Homo sapiens: one gene and its partners. The protein of the gene in region 1 purifies or fractionates together with the protein of each later gene. This does not show direct contact. Each region holds a gene or a part of one and is shown in the gene's direction. Other genes may lie near its edges.

The links.
Region 2: the proteins of AKAP14 (region 1) and SPA17 purify together in Homo sapiens (affinity purification with mass spectrometry; 3 studies listed by BioGRID and IntAct, with this or other methods). This does not show direct contact.
Region 3: the proteins of AKAP14 (region 1) and PRKACB purify together in Homo sapiens (affinity purification with mass spectrometry; 3 studies listed by BioGRID and IntAct, with this or other methods). This does not show direct contact.

The regions. Positions count from the first base shown.
Region 1 is NC_000023.11:119,898,874-119,905,901, forward strand, and holds part of AKAP14 (A-kinase anchor protein 14), read left to right. Parts: intron 1-4,340; 5' UTR 4,341-4,350; coding exon 4,351-4,519; intron 4,520-4,621; coding exon 4,622-4,713; coding exon of another isoform or gene 4,714-4,722; exon of another isoform or gene 4,723-4,786; intron 4,787-7,028. UniProt on the Homo sapiens protein: Binds to type II regulatory subunits of protein kinase A and anchors/targets them.
Region 2 is NC_000011.10:124,690,883-124,697,910, forward strand, and holds the end of SPA17 (sperm surface protein Sp17), read left to right. Parts: intron 1-813; coding exon 814-900; intron 901-3,420; coding exon 3,421-3,564; 3' UTR 3,565-6,636; downstream 6,637-7,028. UniProt on the Homo sapiens protein: Sperm surface zona pellucida binding protein. Helps to bind spermatozoa to the zona pellucida with high affinity. Might function in binding zona pellucida and carbohydrates.
Region 3 is NC_000001.11:84,147,250-84,154,277, forward strand, and holds part of PRKACB (cAMP-dependent protein kinase catalytic subunit beta), read left to right. Parts: intron 1-7,028. UniProt on the Homo sapiens protein: Mediates cAMP-dependent signaling triggered by receptor binding to GPCRs.

The DNA.
Region 1 (7,028 bases):
AATGTGAGAATAAGGCCAGGCGCGATGGCTCACACCTGTAATCCCAGCACTTTGGGAGACTGAGGTGGGTGGATCAGGAGGTCAGGAGTTCAAGACCAGCCTGGCCAAGATGGTGAAACCCCGTCTCTACTAAAAATACAAAAATTAGCTGGGCGTGGTGGCAGGTGCCTGTAATCCCAGCTACTCGGGAGGCTGAGGCAGCAGAATTGCTTGAACCCAGGAGGCGGAGGTTGCAGTGAGCGGAGATCGTGCCACTGCCCTCCAGCCTGGGTGACAGAACAAGACTCTGTCTCAAAAAAAAAAAAAAAAAAAGGAAGAAAGAAAATGTGAGAATAGGGCCCTACTGCTCTTTCTCAATCTTGGAGGGAGAAGAGCAGCACAGTTGAGAGCATGGGCTGTGAAGCCAGACACTGTGGGTGTACAGCTCAGTTTCCTCATTTTCACATGGCAGCAACAGGCCCTCTGTCTGTGACTCAGGGCTCCTGTAGGAAACTGTTGGCATATTAAAATGAGGATAGCTGTAGAAGGGTTAAGTAAGGGAATATTTACAAAGGTGTGGCCAGATTGCAGGGCAACAGAGGAAGGTGCAGCTCCCCGGGGCTAGTAACAGTGGGCCTAAAACGTTGAGGGGAGAGAATGCTTACCCTTACCACACTGGGAAGCTGGGAGAGCGCCACCCTGAAAGACGCTGGGGACTTCATGCAGCCAGCCATCAGCCAACTCGCAGGGAGAAAACCACCAGGGACATACATTTTGACTTCCTGATCTCCTTATTGTGTGGAACCCCCTAGAAGCCAGAGGGCACCATTTATGGGTGCAGTCAGGTTAGTTTTCCAGGGCAGGAAGCAGGAGGAGATGCAAGGACAGTGGATTTGGAAAGGCAAATGGAAGGTGCCCAGCGCACTCTTTCATAGGGCTGTGATGACAGTTAAATGAAACATAGCACATTAAACACCCCCAAATTGGGAGCTGTTATTTATAGAAAAATAGCTCCATTTGGAGAGAGATACCCACTTTCATGTAGCCCTTCCACTCAATGGAAGGATTGCTTGCAACATACTTATTTTTTATTTTTTGAGACAGCCTTGCTCTGTCACCAGGCTGGAGTGCAGCGACACAATCTCGGCTCACTGCAACCTCTGCCTCCCGGGTTCAAGCAATTCTCCTGCCTCAGCCTCACGAGTAGCTGGGATTACAGGTGCTGGCCACCATGCCAGTCCAACTTTTTTTTTTTTTGAGATGGAGTCTCACTCTCATTGCCCAGGCTGGAGTGCAATGGCGTGATCTGGGCTCACCACAACCTCCGCCTCCCAGATTCAAGCGATTCTCCTGCCTCAGCCTCCCGAGTAGCTGGGATTACAGGCACGTGCCACCACACCTGGCTAATTTTTGTATTTTTAGTAGAGACGGGGTTTTGCCTTGTTGGCCAGGCTGGTCTTGAACTCCTGACCTCAGGTGATCCACCCGCCTCGGCCTCCCAAAGAGCTGGGATTACAGGCATGAGCCACCAAACCTGGCCCAGGCCAATTTTTGTATTTTTAGTAGAGATGGGGTTTCTCCATGTTGGCCAGGCTAGTCTCAAACTCCTCACCTCAGGTGATCTAACCCCTTGGCCTCCCAAATTGCTGGGATTACAGGCGTGTGCCACCGTGCCTGGCCATGTTTTTTATTTTCTCTGAGACAGGGTCTCGCTCTGTCACCCAGACTGGAGTACAGTGGTGAGATCACGGCTCCCTGCAGCCTCGACCTCCCAGGCTCAAGTGATCCTCCTACATCAGCCTTGTGAGTAGAAAGCTGGGATTACAGGCACACATCACCATACCTGGCTAATTTTTTAAACTTTTGTAGAGATGGGGCCTTGCTATGTTGTCCAGGCTGATCTCAATCCCCTGCACTTAAGCGATCCTCCCACTTTGGCCTCCCGAAGTGCTGGGATTACAGGCCTGAGCCACTGCACCCGGCTGCCTGTAAGGAATTTAAAGCTGTGCTGGAAGTAAGCAATTTTTCATAAGCAAAGAGACTTAAACAGTAGCAAGAAAAGAAAGGATTTAAGACTCAAGGGAAAAGATGTAAAAAACATTGAAAATGAGGAAAGACTTCTAGCTCTGTGATGGAGCCATCTTTACAGCCCTAGTAACACAAATTTTCACATTGTCAATACATGTTAAAGGCATCTGGAAGATTATAGCTATCATTTATGATAAAAATCTTACTAGAACAGGAACAGACGAATGTTTTCTTGATGTGATACATCTCAAACCACAAACCAGCATCATACTAATGGTGTAACACCAGAAAGCAAGGCCATTAAAGTCAGACACAATAGGAGGATGCTCATTATTTCCACTTTCATTTTACATTTTTCTGGAAGTATTAACCAAAGCTAATACTCATAAGAGATATATACTCCTGGAAAAAAGATGATAAAAGTGACAGTTTATTGGAGATGATATAATTGTATACTGTACTGGAAAAACCCAAGAGAGAGAATTATGAAACCAATATTCCTCTGCTGTAATGCCTCTACTCATTTTAACACTATCTTTATAGGCCAGGTGTGGTGGCTCACACCTGTAATCCCAGCACTTTGGGAGTCCAAAGTGGGTGGATCACTTGAGGTCAGGAGTTCAAGACCAGCCTGGCCAACATGGTGAACCCCCGTCTCTACTAAAACTACAAAAAATTAGCCAGGCATGGTGGCACACGCCTGTAGTCCCAGCTACTCGGGAGGCTGAGACAGGAGAATCACTTGAATCCGGGAGGCGGAGGTTGCAGTGAGCCAAGATTGTGCCATTGCACTCCAGCCTGGGCGACAGAACGAAACTTTGTCTCAAAAAAAAAAAAAACACTATCTTAGCCGGCGCGCTGGCTCACGCCTGTAATCCCAGCACTTTGGGAGGCCGAGGCGGGTGGATCACCTGAGGTCAAGAGTTCGAGACCAGCCTGGCCAACTTGGAGAAACCCCATCTCTACTGAAAATACAAAATTAGCCGGGCGTGGTGGCGCATGCCTCCAATCCCAGCTACTCGGGAGGCTGAAGCAGGAGAATCACTTGAACCTGGATTCTCCCGGGAGGCGGAGGTTGCGGTGAGCCGAGATAGCGCCATTGCTCTCCAGCCTGGGCAACAAGAACAAAACTCTGACTCAAACAAACAAACAAACAAACAAAAAACAAAACACTGTCTTTATACTTTTTTTTTTTTTTTGAGATGTAGTCTCCCTCTGTAGCCCAGGCTGGAAGGCTGGAGTGCAGTGGTGCGATCTCGGCTCACAGCAACCTCTGCCTCCTGGGTCCCGGTTCAAGCAATTCTCCTGCCTCAGCCTCCTGTGTAGCTGGGATTACAGGCATGAGCCACCATGCCCAGCTAATTTTTGTATTTTTAGTAGAGACGAGGTTTCACCATGTTGGCCAGAGTGGTCTTCAACTCCTGACCTCGTGATATGCCTGCCTCAGGCTCCCAAAGTGCTGGGATTACAGGCGTGAGCCACCGCGCCGGGCCTTTATATTTCTTTTTAAAAGTTAAGACAGGTTGGGGAGTGGGGAGATCTCACTATGTTGCCCAGGCTGGTTTCAAACTCATAGCCTCAAACTGTCCCCCTGCTTCAGCCTCCTGAATAGCTGAGATTACAGGCACATGCCACCACACCCACTTCATTTTAACATCATTTTAAAAGAGCCAGGTGCCCTCAGTTGCTCCTAGCAGGGATTGGGTTTCTTATCAAAGATTCAACTTGGAATCAATATTGCTAGGCACTCCAAAGAAGTGCTACTTTTTTTCTACTACATTTTGATTTAAGTCATTATGGTGTTTTTTTTGTTTTTTGTTTTGTTTTTGAGATGGAGTTTTGCTCTTGTTGCCCAGGCTGGAGTGCAATGGCGCGATCTTGGCTCACTGCAACCTCCACCTCCCAGGTTCAAGCAATTGTCCTGCCTCAGCCTCCCAAGTAGCTGGGATTACAGGCGCCCGCCACCACACCCGGCAAATTTTGCATTTTTAGTAGAGACGGGGTTTCACCATGTTGGTCAGGCTGGTCTTGAACTCCTGACCTCAGGTGATCCGCCCGCCTCGGGCTCTCAAAGGGCTGGGATTACAGGCGTGAGCCACCGCGCCGGGCCTCATTATGATTTTGAGAATGTGAGAATCCTTGGTTTTCAGGAAAAGTAGATAGCAGCAGCCAGGCACAGGTCTGACTCCTACCCTTAAACCCCTAATCCCCTCCCTAGAGGCAATAACTGCTTCCTGTCTCTTGTGATTCTTCAAGAGATGATCTGTACTTATATGAGTGCGTTCACATGTGTGTACACACACAGGCACACAGTAACTTCTTTTTTTCCCCAGGAAAAAGAAAATGAGTGAGACTCAAAATTCAACAAGCCAGAAAGCAATGGATGAGGATAACAAAGCCGCAAGCCAAACAATGCCGAATACACAAGACAAGAACTACGAGGATGAATTGACTCAAGTAGCTCTAGCTCTGGTTGAGGATGTCATCAATTATGCTGTTAAGATTGTGGAAGGTAGTGATCCTGTTTGTTTGGATGCCTAAATAATTGTCTATATAGTCTAAATATAGCACCACACTACCTGGCAACTAACGAACTCACACCTTTTTTTTGCAGAGGAGCGAAACCCTTTGAAAAACATCAAGTGGATGACTCACGGTGAATTCACTGTGGAAAAGGGTCTTAAACAAATTGACGAATATTTTTCGGTAAGTTAGGCCGACCACTCCAGCATGGTACACCGGTGTGAAGAACAATAAAGAGACTCTCAGCAGATCAAAAGTTTGAAGTCTGGAAAATCTAGGAGATGGTATCAAAGGGGGCTGACTAGAATAAGTAAACATCATCTCCATCTCAGTTCCAAAATCAAGGTGGGATAGTCTTTGAAGGTGAAATGCACAATCACAATCATTTTCCCTGTGTCTGTATCATTCTAACCTTACATTTCCCTGGGAAAATCTGCTCTTCCTACTTAAGCAATTTGTCCATGCTGGTGCATTAAATGGGGGCCTAGTGGCCTAAGGAGGGAGATGCTCCTCCAAAATAGGAGTTCTCCACCACCATTATTTTGTTTATTTTTTTTAGAGACAGGGTCCCACTCTGTCACCGAGGCTGCAGTGCAGGGGCTCGATCCTAGCTCCCTGCAGCTTTGAACTCCTGGGCTCAAGCGATCTTCCCACCTCAGCCTTCCAAGTAGACAGGCACGTGTCACCACACCTGGCTAATTTTTAATTTTTTTTTGTAGAGACAGGGTCGTGCTATGTTGCTCAGGTTGGCCTCGAACTCCTGGCCTCAAGGGATCCTCCTGCCTTGGCCTCCCAAAGTGCTGGGATTACAGGTGTGAGCCATTGCACCCAGCCTCCACCACCAACTTTAGAATGCTCCTGTTAACAGAGGGGATGCAGATGGATCAAAAGACTTTTTGATTTGGCTTTGGAATATATTGCCTGCATAGTAAGATGTACAATCCCATGAATTCCTTTGTTCTTCTGCCTGTGTCTGACTCTGACTTCTTCGTGTGGCAGCTTTGCTGAGAAGGCCCTGGATTACTTTGCATAACTGGTGAGTGAATAAAGGAGAATGGCTTGGGCCAGGCGCAGTGGTTCACATCTGTAATCCCAGCACTTTGAAATACCAAGACGGGAGAATCAATCATTTGAGCCTAAGAGTTTGAGACAGCCTGGGCAACATAGTGGGACCCCATCTCTATAAAACTAAAAAATTAGGCCAGGCATAGTGGCTCACGCCTGTAAGCCCAGCACTTTGGGAGGCCGAAGTGGGCAGATCACAAGGTCAGGAGTTCAAGTCCAGCCTGGCCAATATGGTGAAACCCCGTCTCTATTAAAAATACAAAAATTAGCCAGGCGTGGTGCTGGGCGCCTGTAATCCCAGCTACTCGGGAGGCTGAGGCAGAAGAATCGCTTGAACCCAGGAGGCAGAGGTTGCAGTGAGCTGAGATTACACCACTGCATTCTCAATCCTGGGCGACAGAGCAAGACTCCGTCTCAAAAAATAATAATAATAATTAGCCGGGCGTGGTGGTATGCACGTATAGTTCCAGCTACTCAGGAGGCTGAGGTGGGAGGATCACTTGAGCCCAGGAGGTCGAGGCTGCAGTAAGCTGTGATTGTGCCACTGCACTCAGCCTGGGTGACAGAGTGAGACCCTGTCTCAAAAAAAAAAAAGGCTTGAAATCCTTCTCATTGTGCTTCTGTGGAACAGAGACCAGTTGAAATTGGTGGAGGCGAACTCCCCTACCCCTGGGAAAAGTTCCAGCTCTCTCTGTTCCCCAGGCCAGCACCTCAAAGCCTACAGCCCTCAGGGCAGTTTCCCAGGCCTTAGGAAGGCCTGGTCAGGTGTGAAGGAGGAAAAGTCAGGGATTTCTGGCTCCACGCCTTCTATGCTCCAGCGGACGCCACTCACCGTTCTCATTAGGAGGGGTATCTTGAGCATAGTGAAGATGAATGGTGCAAGTTATTCTTGAGCCTTCCTGCTGTGGAGCACTTCTCCATTTGGGGTTGGGCAAAGGCCCCTGCCTACTGCACTCAGGGTTCCTGAATCAAACTAGAATGGAACACATAGCAAGTAGGAAAAATTTCCCTTGCAAATCCCACTGGTCATTCTGAGTAAAAGGCAAAAGTAAGTCCTGACAATGGTCTACAAGGCCCAATATGATCTGAGTTCCCTTTCCCCTCCTGATTTATGGTTCAGCTCCCATCACTCCTTCCCCCCTCTCACCTTCTTCCCTCGGCCACACTTGCCTCCTTGCCGTTCCTCGACTGCCAGGCATGTTCCCCTGTCAGGACCCTTGCTCTTGCTGTTCCCTCTGCCTGGAACCCTCTCCCCTAAGATGTATACCCATGGCTCACTGCTTTACCTCCCTTCAGATCTTTGTTGAAAACTATCACCTGCTCATTGAGGCTTTTCTTGGCCACTTCATCTAAAATCACAACCCTCTCCACTTCTCTGATTCATTTTTCCCTTCGCACTTCTTTCTGCCTACTAGAGTCTATTTACTTGTCCT
Region 2 (7,028 bases), on another chromosome or scaffold:
GTTCCATCCATTTGTGCCTGCAGGTATGGGTGTGTTCTGTGTATTTCCATTTTACTAGATTCTCTGTGCTCATGTTTTATTTGTATTCATGTTTATCGAAGTCAAAGGAATAATGTTGAAAGATTTTAAATCCTTGCATCACATAGCAATTTTGGGGTGTTTCTTTTTTTAATTCTAAAGGCTTTATTTGATTAACTTATATATTCTTAAATTTTGGTTTTATGGGTTAAAGAAGCTCTTTCCATAGGTGTGAATTAGCAATGAAGGAAGACTTAAATAGCCATGTCAAAATAGGCAGAGGTGGTTTCTCCTTTTATATTTAAATCATAAAGCAAAACTCCACAGCAAAACTTACTTCTCTGACTAGTTTTAATCCATAAACGTCACTAAAAAGTCAATTTGATGTCACATTATGGAACACAATGCCATTTATTTTATTCCTATTTTAGAAACTATTGGATCCTCTTTTTTATACTTTGTTCAGGATTCATTACATCATCTTATCAACTTTTAGTATAGGACAGTGGTTTATTTTTAACATAAAACAGTGGTACACACATTCCAAAAGCAACAGATCAAACATTTTTGCCAATTATTTGGTCTTTAATATTTGTTTACACGTATTTCCTTAAGAGCTTTTATTATTTCTTCTTGTTTCAATGTATTTTCCTTATTAAAAGATAAATACGTAGTATTTAATTCCCCCTATTTCTCAGTAATTTAAAGTAATGTTTCATTACTTCTAAGCAGTTTGATACAAGACTTTGCCATTTTGGAAACATTGCTAATTGTGGCTCTCTCCTATCTGTCCAGGAGCAAGAACCACCTGAGAAAAGTGATCCTAAACAAGAAGAGTCTCAGATATCTGGGAAGGAGGAAGAGACATCAGTCACCATCTTAGTATGTAATATTTTTCATGTACTATTGGATTCCTACAAAGAATGATATTGCCCAATTTAAAACTGAACTCCAAATATGAATGTCTGTTATCTTTATTGTCAAAATTATGACTTTACTTTCCAGATAATTAACATCAGTGATAAACTAACTGGTAGATAATTTTCAGCCATGCCTCTCTTGATCAAAAATTCATTTTTCCTTTAAAAATGAAATCTTATTTTTCAAGATTGTTAATGGATGGAAAAATCTCCCTATGGGGAAGGGCAGACAGAACTCACAGACCCAGTCATGATCCTTCAGATTCATCTTCCACTTTGGGAATTTTTCACTAATTGGTGCTGTCACCACTACACAATGGCAAATTTCAGAGATAACAAAAGGAAAATCACAGGGAATTACATACAGCCAAAATAATGGCTTTACAACAATGTGGCTTATTCATCTTCCATGCATAACGCTCTACAAAAATGCCTTCGTGCCTGATGTACTACATCCAAGCAGTCAAGACATAGCGGAGGCCGGGCGTGGTGGCTCACGTCTGTAATCCCAGCACTTTGGGAGGCCAAGGCAGGCAGATCACGAGGTCAGGAGATTGAGACCATCCTGGCTAACACGGTGAAACCCCATCTCTACTAAAAATACAAAAAATTAGCCGGGCATGGTGGCGGGCGCCTGTAGTTCCAGCTACTCGGGAGGCTGAGGCAAGAGAATGGTGTGAACCCGGGAGGCGGAGGTTGCAGTGAGCCAAGATCACGCCACTGCACTCCAGCCTGGGCGACAGTACAAGACTCCTTCTCAAAAAAAGAAAAAAAAAGACATAGCGAAGTCCACCCTCAAAGGCCCATTGTTCAGTAATGTCACTTTAATAACTTGAAGTCAGCCACAATGAGAATATTAAGACCATGGCAAACACTGCAAATCAGGGCTTTGTTTCTTCTGGAGAGCCAGTTGTTAAAACACTTACCAGTACATCATTGTCTATATTCTTCATACTCCAGACTCTTGTGGACTAGGCCTCATAAGAAAGAAGAACTCACTCTCTAAAATGTCGAAGTTCAAACTTCTGAGTTCCTTTTTATGTCTCAGGTCCCAGGTAGTTGCCCAAGAACTGGCAGCCAGAATGGATATCCCCTCAAGGAATACCCTACTTCCTACCTAGTGATGCATTGCTTTTCCCTATAAGATTTACAGGTTGTTCCACAATTGCCATTGGGTTGTACTGAAATAACATTACATTAGGATATAACAGGAAGATTAACATTAAGATGTAACAGGAAGTCAAGGAAGAAGGGAGTTTTATTTCCTTACATCTTTCATAGGTGCTTTTACACAGGTTTTCATGAGTTTGAGTAGGGATCTCATTGATTTCCAACTTGAGTGTATTTGTTTGCTATATTAGGATGTCATCTCGAAGAATTTTATACCATTCTGTTTGCATTTAAAAGTTTAAGAGCTAGATTTGTCTCATTATTTATAATAGGGGGATAGGAGGCTTGAGCAACCCAAAGGTCCATTAATATGAGATTGAGTAAATATTAAATCAAGGTACATCAGTATAATATAATGATGTCATAAAAAAAGAATGGGGAGAGTTATACACTGACTAATAATACAGAAAAAGAGAACCAAGATATATCGTTACATGGAAAAAGTAGCTGCAGAACTCTGTGATTAGGATGATCTCATTTTTAAAATAAAAAGACATATATATATATATATACCCATATGAATATATTTGCATATAGAGAAATTTTGGAAGGATGTAGATACTCAACTCATAATAATGGGTATCTCCCAAGAGCAGGATTTGGATAGGTGGAGAAAACTATCACTGCCAGTGACATTTGAGTTTTTAAAGTGTATACATGTCATTTCTATAATTTTAAAAGATATATTAAAAGCTGTATATTCAATTGTACGCTGAAGATTCATGCATTTTACTGTCTGTAAATTTATAGCTAAAAATTTATACCCAATTTTTTTAAAAGAGGGTATGTGCCAAAGTTCAACCAACCCTGTTAAAACTGACATTATTGGACTAAATGGATTTCTCTTTGGCACCTCACTTTAAATGTATGACGATGATTAACTAATCATTGAGAAATTGAGAAGTTATTCTAATTCATTATATGTAATTGTGATTATTTTGAAACATAACATTTACAGTTCTTTCTTCTTAACATTTTTACCATGCCTCAAGGATTCTTTCTTGTCCCCCCAACCCCCCAAAAAATGTTGTTGCTCAGGAAACTTAAATAGGCACTATTTTAGGGGAAAGAAAGTTGGCAATGATCTTTTGTTGCAGAGACATATTAAAAGAGTGACAAAACAAAATGCCTGCTATTTTGGCATTTGCCATTTGGTACATATACAATGTGACAATATATGAAATTCCCTCAGGAAGCAACAGCTCTCAGATAGTTGCATCCCTAAAATGATTAAATTTCATCCATTTATTTTTGTGGCATCAAAACTACGCCATATTTAAAGAGTCTCTTACTTTTTCTCCTTTCGATGAAGGACTCTTCTGAGGAAGATAAGGAAAAAGAAGAGGTTGCTGCTGTCAAAATCCAAGCTGCCTTCCGGGGACACATAGCCAGAGAGGAGGCAAAGAAAATGAAAACAAATAGTCTTCAAAATGAGGAAAAAGAGGAAAACAAGTGAGGACACTGGTTTTACCTCCAGGAAACATGAAAAATAATCCAAATCCATCAACCTTCTTATTAATGTCATTTCTTCCTGAGGAAGGAAGATTTGATGTTGTGAAATAACATTCGTTACTGTTGTGAAAATCTGTCATGAGCATTTGTTTAATAAGCATACCATTGAAACATGCCACTTGAAGATTTCTCTGAGATCATGAGTTTGTTTACACTTGTCTCAAGCCTATCTATAGAGACCCTTGGATTTAGAATTATAGAACTAAAGTATCTGAGATTACAGAGATCTCAGAGGTTATGTGTTCTAACTATTATCAAATGAATAAATCCTCTCTATCACATCCCCCAAAAATGTTCTTTAGCTCCTGTTTCACTCCTAGTGGTAAAGAATTTCACTGCTTTTTAAGGATAGTCTATTTAATTTTGGAATTTTTAGAAAGATAAGCTGGGACAAAAATCTGCCTCCTTCAGCCTGGCCAACATGGTGAAACCCCATGTCTACTAAAAGTACAAAAATTGGCCAGGCGTGGTGCGCACACCTGTAATCCCAGCTACTCGGGAGGCTGAGGCAGGAGAATCGCTTGAACCTGGGAAGTGGAGGCTGCAGTAAGCCGAGATCGCACCACTGCACTCCAGCCTGGGCGACAGAGCAAGACTCTGTCTCAAAAACAAAACAAAACAAAAAAAAGCCTCTGCCTCCTTGTAAGTTTAACCCACTGGTTTTCATTTATCATACATGTATTCAATCATTTATTGAAAATGTATTGAGTACTATTCATGTGCTGGGAATTAGTAGTGAATACTTGTTCTTACACTCATACAACTTACAATGCTTTATTGTTTTGCTCTCCAGAACCACACAGAACAAGACTAATAACATCATATTGTAAAAAGCAAAAGCTATCATATCATGCTGCCTTCTTCAGTTAAAACTTCCCAAGTTTTTAAATATACAATGGTAATGCCTGTTTAACAAACTCAGAGGCTTTATCTCTTTTATGTTTTCAATGATTCATTCAAATCCCTAGTGCCTTAGTTTTAGAAAGTTCCGTCTCTCCTTTTTGAGGCCTCTCCACCCTTGATTGTCCAAGAAACTGAGGGTTCATGTCTTAGACCAAAGGGTGCAGTTCTCTTCCCAATACAAAAGGTAGAAAGTGGAGTCTTACCATTTAGTTAATGCTGTTGCCTTCTACCATAATGTTGTAGCATAGTCCAGCAGACTGAGGTGATTCTCTGGCTGGTTCCAATTCCTGCCTGCACCATAGTGGATGGCCCATGATTTAGTTCCAGGATTACATCTCTCTTGGTTTATAGTCACAAAGCCAGTGTTCCCCCAAAGCTTAAAAACAAGCCAGGATGGCTCAGTCCTGAGGAGATTCTAAAACCAGGTCTATGTTGTCACAACAAATACTCTCCTACAAACACTTTGATCCTTGTCCTAGGCTTAGACATGCTCTTTCTGCAAAGCAGTTTTATTTCAGGTGCCTCACTGCCCTTCCCTGGCACTGAGCCTTTATCAGGCTCTGCAACAGAGGTTCCCCCAAGTGATCGCCACTCAAACACAGTTGATTCACACCAACCCTTTCAAGGTTGTGGCTTTCATTCTCTAATGTCCACTCATACAGGCAGCCTTTCTCCTTCCAAAATCTTGCTGCCACTGTAGAGAGTTTCATGCTAGCTAAACACAAGTCTCTAATATCCCCCTTCCTCTCCTCCTTAACCCCTCTCCTCCAGGCTTACAGAGGAAAAGAAATCAGTTCTCCTCCAGGATTCCAGCTGTTCGTCCCTCCCATTCCACTGAAAGCACCAGCTTCTAACACCTTCCCCTCTCAGACAGAGCCATCCTGCTTAGCGGATTGTCAAGGGGGGACCCAGAATTTATGCAAAGACTTAGATTCCCTGACCTGGAGAGATCAGAAGAGGAAAAAAGGGATTTTTTCCCTAGTGAGTATATAGCAGGAAAAAAAAAAAAGATGAGTTAGCTTTTTCAGTAATTCTCCTGTTATACACATAAAGTGACTAGCACTATGCATTCCATACACACACACACACACACACAGATCTCATGGTAGTGATATTGGTAGTGAAGGAGGAAAAGGAAAAGGTGAGCAATGGATGTGATATTATGAGAACAACACATATGAATGACACTTTATTAGAACTTATCTGGTTTTCCTCTTATCTCTCTGGCTGTTCCTTCTCAATTCCCTTCACTGGTAACTCTTCAACTCCCCAACCACTAAATGCTAAGTGCCCTTAGGCTCAGTCTTTCGACCCCATTTCTACACTCACTTGATTTCCTGCAGTTTCATAGCTTTAAAATCCAATCTTCTTAATGATCACTCCCAGACCTTTCTCTCCTCTGCCTGCGAACTTCTATATTCAACTGCCTACATAACATCCCCATTTGGATGTCTATAGGCATCTCAAAAGTAACATATAAAAAATGAATCCTGATATTGCCCCCAAATCTGAAACTTCCCCCACACCCAAGTTTTTCCATTCAAAAATGGCTGCTCCATTCTTCCATTTGCTCAGGCCAAAAACCTTGGATTCATCTTTAATGCGTCACTTTCTTTCACACCCCATATACAATCTATCAGCAAAACCTGTGGGCTGTACCTATAAAATAATACTCAGAATCTGCCTACTTCTAACCACTTCCATTGTTACCGCCTTGGTCCTAGTTCCCATGATAGCCTTGTGAATTATTGCAATAACCTATATTGGCCAGTGATTATCTCACTACTACTGCACAACCCATTCCAAAGTTAGTGGTTTAAGACAATTATATTTTCTCCTGGGTCTGTAGGTCAGTGGTAATGTAGCTAAGCTAGGCTGGACTACAATCTCAAGGTTAGGTTCAGGTCAGCTCTAAGCTGTGGGTTTGTGGGCTGACAGGAAGGTCTGCTTCAGGCTGTGGGCCCAAGGGTCAGCTGCAGCACAGTGCCTCTGCTTCACGTGTCCTTTTCTGAGCCCCTGCTGAAAGACGTTATCCAGGACAAGCTCTTCTCATGCTGGTCACAGAAGACAAGCAGGAAAACCCAGCATGCAAGAATATTTCAAGCTTTTGCTCATATCACTTCCACTGACATCCCATATACAAAAGAAAGTCATCTAATGAAGCCCAAAGTGAGGAGGATGAGGAAATACACTGTTCACCAATAGCAAAGGCTTCATGTGTGCATAATACTACTACAGGGTAGTGAAGAATTGCGACCAGTAATTTAATCTACCACGATCTGCTTTCTTGATTATAATTATGTCTTTACCACATGCAAAAATTGACCCACTCCTATCCCAAAACCCCTAAAAGTTCCATCACATCTTTGAAATCCAGGATCTCATGATCTACATCAGGTCCAGATATAGCCCTTCTTGATATAGAGACCTATGAATTAAAAGAGCAAGCATCTTTTTATCACATACCAAACATACAACAAATGATGGAATAGAGACAATAATAAC
Region 3 (7,028 bases), on another chromosome or scaffold:
ATGAGCAGTTTTGATTATGGATGTCCTCTAGCAAAATCATAAAGTGGTTACAGTAGACCACTTCAGTCAGTTTTACCTTTGCAAATTTTATACAATCTCTCAGACAGTTTACCTCCTATTTGTTAGCCCATTGAATCTGTATCATTTTAACTTCTCAGCTAAAAGACTTTCCACCTTTGTCTTTTTATCAGCTTTTTCCACTTGAAACTATTCCATAAGCTTCTTGATAATAGTCAATTTCTACTCATTTGGTAAAACTTTTTTGAGTATTTACTATATCATAGTAAGTAAGCAAGTTTCCAGGAAAAATAAGATCTAGTTCTTACCCCCAAAAAGAAGAGCAAACATAATATAATATTCAAGGCATAATGAAATAGTTGCTTTAAAATGTCTAAGCTTACTGTGGAAGCTAAGTGTAAGAAAAAAGTTGTTACTAAAGAGAAAATGGGGGACTTCAAAAATATTAAAGAATGAATAGAATTTTGAGACCTAGAGAAGAAGGTTATTTTAAGAAAATAACATACACAAGTATTTGAAAATATGAACATTTAGAACTTACTTAAAAGGTTTAGTAAGATACTGTCTAGAAAATTAGGTTCTGGATTTAAACTTTAAAAGTTTTCTATTAGACATCCAGAATTTTGTACTACGCTGTATTAGTGGGGAGCCAATGCAGTTTTTTAAAGTGGAAAATAATATAATGCAACCTTTGTTAAAAGAGCCTAAAGATTTTAACTAGCATAATACAGGATAAGTTAACTTACTTTACTACAGAGAAATGTGTATAGCTACTATACATCTTCCGTTTTTGCTGGGCATTTAATTAGAACTAACGCTTTTGACGTGACAGTCAGCATGGCAATGAATAGTCAGATAATGGATTCCTTTTACAACAGTGCTTGTTCAAGTTGCTGCTTCTGTCTGGAATTCTCTTTCTTCACTTCTACCAGTGGTGAGATTTGCCCATACTTTAGGCATCCTCTCAGGTATCATCTCTGTAACAAAACCACCAATGTATCCTATTCATCTATCCTTCATCCTTCTTAGAGTCTGTGCTCTTCCTTATGTTCTTATATCATCTTATACTTAACTTTTATTGTGGTTTATTTATAGTATTTATATGGTATAGTTTGTATACTATATATATTATAGTTTATAATATTTAAAATGCATTACTATTAATCCTTATGTATCTGTCTCTCATGTTTGATTTTGAACTCCTTGAAGGCAAATAACTTGTCAGTTTATTTCAGTATTACTAGCATAATTTTCAATAAATCTTGAGTTATTTGTTAAATTAACATTAAACATCACTGCAGTATTACACAAATGAGCTTCTTACTAATTTGTGCTATTGTGATCTTTGCAATTTATTTTAAAAGCCCATGGCCATTAACCAAAAGCAGTCAAATGCTGACCTGGCTCTAGTAAATACCAATTTTCAGTGTTACCTGTGTATTTTTATCATGATTTCCAATAAAAATTTAAGTAACAAGCAGACTTTATAGTAAAACTAAAATAGTTGGGATATTAAATGATGTTGAAATCAGGAAATCATTCCATGAGCCATTTAGCAATGCAAGTACTATATCAACTGTACTAACATAACGAGAAGCTTTTACTTGCTTGTGCTTTGCAAAAATAGCCATATGACAGAGTTAGAAGACAGCTTGCTACTCAAAGTGTGGTCCCTGTCCAGCATTATTAGCATCTCCTGGGAGCTTGTTAGGAGGAAGAATCCCAGGTCCCACCTAGACCTACTTAGTCAGAATCAGCATTTTAACAAGATTTCCCAGCTGATTTATATGCACATTAAGGTGTGAGAAGCACTTTTTCCCTAATAACATTTTAATATGATTTCCAAATGTATATCTTCACTGGAGAAAATTTTGAAACTACAGGAAAAAACAAAAAGGTAAAAAAAAGTATACATAATTCTGCCAAAAGGTAATGACTGTTAATTTTTGTATATATACTCTATTTTGTGTATAGACACACAAATTTCTACCAGCTCCAATTTTTTTTTTTTAAACAGAGTCTTACCGTGTCACCCAGGCTGGAGTGCAGTGGTGGGATTTCGACTCGCTGCAGCCTCTGCCTCCCAGGCTCAAGCGATCCTCCCATCTCAGTTTCCCAAGTAGCTGGGACTATAGGCATGTGCCACCATACCCGGCTAATTTTTTGTATTTTTGGTAGAGGTGGAGTTTCACCATGTTGCCCAGGTCGATCTTGAACTCCTGAACTCAAGTGATCTGCCTGCCTTGGCCTCCCAAAGTGCTGGGAATACAGGCCTGAGCCACTGCACCCAGCCCAGCTCCAGAATTTGGATCTTTCAAAACATAATGTTTAGTTAACATTTTTCTTTATAAAGAGTTGTTCTACAATACTATTTTGTATTAAATCATAAGGATATACTATAATTTATTTAACCAATCATTGGCCATCTAGGCTGTTTTTAATGTTTTGCTATTAAAAAATGCCATGATAAACATCTTTATAACTAAATATTTGTACATATTTAGGATTATTTTTATATTTTATAGGATTAATTTGAAGAAGTTATGACCATTTTAAGGCTTTTGCATTAAATTAATTGAATCCCAGATAAACATGCATATCTTTTTGGAGTTAATTATTATAATAATTATTTTTTCATAGATTATAGCACTTGAGAATGTGTGAAAATAATTATATAGCTACTATCCTTAATGATATTTTTAAAAACAAATTTAAGGCCAGGTGTGGTGGCTCACGCCTGTAATCCCAGCACTTTGGGAGGCTGAGGTGGGCAGATCCCTTGCAGTCAGGAGTTCAACAACAGCCTGGCCAACATGGTGAAACCCTGTCTCTACTAAAAATGCAAAAATTAGCCAGGCTCCATCTACAGGTGTGGTGGCGCACACCTGTAATCCCAGCTACTTGGGAGGCTGAGGCAGGAGAATCACTAGACCCCAGGAAGCAGAGGCTGCAGTGAGGTGAGATTGCACCACTGCAGTCCAGCCTGGGTGACAGAGTGAGACTCTATCTCAAAATAAATTAAAATAAAATAAAATAAAGAAAACACATTTAACATTGTAAAATTTATTCTCAAAACAGTATATTGATATTTTTAAAAATTAAAAATATAATGGCCCATTATACTTCCTTCTGTTACAACTACCAGGGTCATGGTAAGAACATTATATGTTTGTCCCCTCCAAATCTCATGTTGGAATGTGATCCCCAGTGTTGGAGGTGGGGCCTAATGGGAGGCGTTTGGGTCATGGGGGAGGATCTCTCATGAATGGCTTGGTGTCCTCCCAATGGGTAATGAGCTGGTTCTTGCTTTATTAGTTCATGCAATAACTGGTTGTTTTTTTAAAACAAACATGGCACTTCCCCCTCTCTCTTGCTCCCTCTCTTTGCCTGTGACATGCCTGCTCCCTCTTTGCCTTCTGCCATCATTGAAAGCTTCCTGAGGCCCTCATCAGAAGCAGATGTTGGCAGTATGCTTCTTCTACAGTCTGCAGAACCATGAGCCAAAATAAATCTCTTTATAAATTATTCTGCCTTAGGTATTTCTTTATAGTAATGCCAAAATAGACCAGTCCATAACAAAAATCTGAATGTGAAAAATATGGATTTGAGAATTTAACTCCATTCTTAATAAGTTGACACTGGAAAGTTTATTTCTTCCTCCCTCCCCCTCAGCTTTATTAAGGTATACTTGACAAATAAAATTGCGTATATTTATAATGTACAACATGATGGTTCAATATAAGTATACATTGTGAAATGACTAAAACAAATGAATATCCACCTCACATAGTTACTTTTTCATGGCAAAAAATTTAAGATTGAATCTCTTAGCAATTTTCATGTAGTCATACCTCAGAGATACTGCAGGTCCAGTTCCAGACCACCACAATACAACTAAAGTCACAGTAAAGCAAGTCACACATTTTTTGGTTTCCCAGTGCATTTAAGTTATGTTTACTCTATAGTCTATTCAGTGTGCAATAACATTATATCTTTTTAAAAGTACATATCTTAATTTGAAATTATTTTATTGCTAAAAAAATACTAATGATCATCTCAGCTTTCAGCATTTCCCAATTTTTTTGCTGGTGGAGGGTCTTGCATTGATGTTTGCCTGCTGATTGATCAAGGTGATGGTCGCTGAAGGTTGGGATGGCAGTGGCAATTTCTTAAAATAAGACAACAAAGTGACACACTTGACTGACTCTTATTTTCATAAAAGATTTCTCTGTAGCATGTGATGTTTTTGGTAGCATTTTACCCACAGTAGAACTTCTTTTAAAATTGGAGTCAGTTCTCTCAAACCTTGTTACTGCTTTACCAACTAAGTTGATGTAATATTCTAAATTCTCAGGTGTCATTTCAATAATCTTCACAGCATCTTCACCAGAAATAGATTCCATCTCAAGAAACTACTTTCTTTGCTCATCTGCAAGAAGCAACTCCTCACTCGTTATAGTTTTATCAGGAGATTGCAGCAATAGAGTCACATCTCCAGGCTCCACTTTTAATTCTAATTATCTTGTAATTTTTTACCACATCTGCAGTGACTTTCTCCACTGAAATTTTAAACCGCTCAAACGCATCTATGAGAGTTGGAAACAACTTCTTCCAAACTCCTGTTGATGTTGATATTCTGACCTCCTCCCATAAATCACAATGTTCTTACGGCATCTGGAATGGTAACTCCTTTTCAGAAGGTTTTCAATTTACTTTGCCCAGATCCATCAGAGGAATCACTATCTGTGACACCTTTAGCCTTATAAAATATATTTCTTAAATAATAAGACCTGATCCATGCCTGCAGAATGGATGTTGTGTTATCAGGCATGAAAACAACGTTCATCTCCTTGTACATCGAGCTCTTGGGTGATCAGGTGCATTGTCAATTAGCACTAATATTTTAAAAGGAATCTTTTTCTGAGTGGTTCCCAATGGTGGGCTTAAAATAGTAAACAATGCTGCAAACAGATATGGTGTCATCTAGCCTTTCACATTCCATTTATAGAGTACAGGTAGAGTAGATTTAGCATAGTTTTTGAGGGCACTAAGAGTTTCTAAATGGTAAATGAATATTGGCTTCAATTTGAAGTCACCAGATGTATTAGCCCCTAGCGAGAGTCAGCCTGTCCTTTGAAGCTTTGAAGCCAGGCATTGCCTTCTCTCTAGCTAGGAAAGTTCTAGATGGCATCTTCTTCCAATAGAGCACTGTTAATTCTGCATTGAAAATCTGTTGTTTAGTCTAGCCACCTTCATCAATTATTTTAGCTAGATCTTCTGGATAACCTGGTGCAGCTTCTCCATTAGCACTTGCTGCTTCACCTTGTACTTTTATGTTATAGAAAGGGCTTCTTTCCTTTAAACCTCATGAACCAACCTCTGCTAGCTTCAGACTTCTGCAACTTCCTCACCACTCTTAGCCTTTATAGAATTGAAGAGTGTCAAGGCCTTGTTCTTAATTAGGCTTTGGCTTAAGGAAATGCTATGACTGGTTTGATCTTTCCAGACCACACAACTTTCTCTATATCAACAATAAGGCTGTTTTGCCTTCTTATCATTAGTGTGTTCACTGGAGCAGCACTTTTAGTTTCCTTCAGTAACTTTTTTCTTTTGCATTCTCAGCTTGGCTGTATGGTGCAAGAGGCCTAGCTTTTGGCCTGTCTCAGCTTTCAACATACCATCCTTACTAAGCTTAATCATTTCTAGCTTTTGATTTGAAGTGAGAGATGTGCAATTCTTCCTTTCGTCTGAACACTAAGAGGCCATTGTAAGGCTATTGATCGGCGTAATTTCAGTATTGCTGTGTCTTAGGGAATAGGAAGGCCCAAGGAGAGGGAGAGAAATGGGGGACTAGCTGGTGAGTGGAGCAGTCAGAGCACACACAACCCTTATCAATTAAGCTCACCATTTTATTTGGGTGCAGTTTGTGGTGCCCTAAAACAGTTAAAATAGTAACATCTGAACACAGATCGCCATAACAGATATAATAATAATGAAAAAGGAAATATTGTGAAAATTATTAAAATGTGACACAGAGACATGAAGTGAGCACATGCTGTAAGAAAAATGGCACCAACAGATTTGCTTGACACAAGGTTGCCCCAACCCTCAATTTGTGAAAAGTGCAATATCTGCTGAGTGCAATAAAGCAACACACAATAAAATGAGGGGTGTGCCTGTATTAATGCATTATTATTAACTGCAGTTACCATTCTATACGATGAATCTCCAGGACTTATTCATCCTGTCTAAGTGAAATTTTGTACCCTTTAGCCAACATCTCCTAAATCTTCCTTCCCTGAACCCTCCCATCCTTCAGCCCCTGACAACCAGCATTCTATTCTCTACTTCTGCGATTTTGATGTTTTTAGGTTCCACATGTGTGACATTATGCAATATTTGTGTTTCTGTGTCTGCCTTATTTCACTTAATATAATGTCTTCCAGGTTCATTCACTCTATCACAAATGAAAGAATTTCCTTCTTTCTTAAGGTTGATAGTGTATTCCAGTGTGTAGAATACCATACGTCGATGCCATATCTTGTGAATAATGCTGTAATGAACATGGGAGTACAGATATCTAGATATCTCTTAGACATACTGATTTCTTTCTTTTGATACATACTTAGAAGCTGGATCATATGATAGTTCATTTTTAATTTTTTGAGGATCCTTCATATCATTTTCCATAATGGCTGTACTAATGTATATTCTCACCAACAGTGTGCAAGGGTTCTGTTTTCTCCAGGTCTTAACCAGTGCTTGTTATCTTTTGTCTTTTTTATAATAGCCATTCTAACAGATGTGAGGTAGTAGCTCATTGTGATTTTAATTTTCATTACCCTCATGAGTAGTGATGTTGAGCATTTTTCATATACCCATTGACCATTTTTATGTCTGCTTTTGAGAAATGCCTATTCAAGTCACCTGCCCATTTTTTAAATTGGGTATTTGTTTTCTTGCTATTGAGTTGTTTGAGTTCCTTATATATTTTCAATATGAACTCCTTA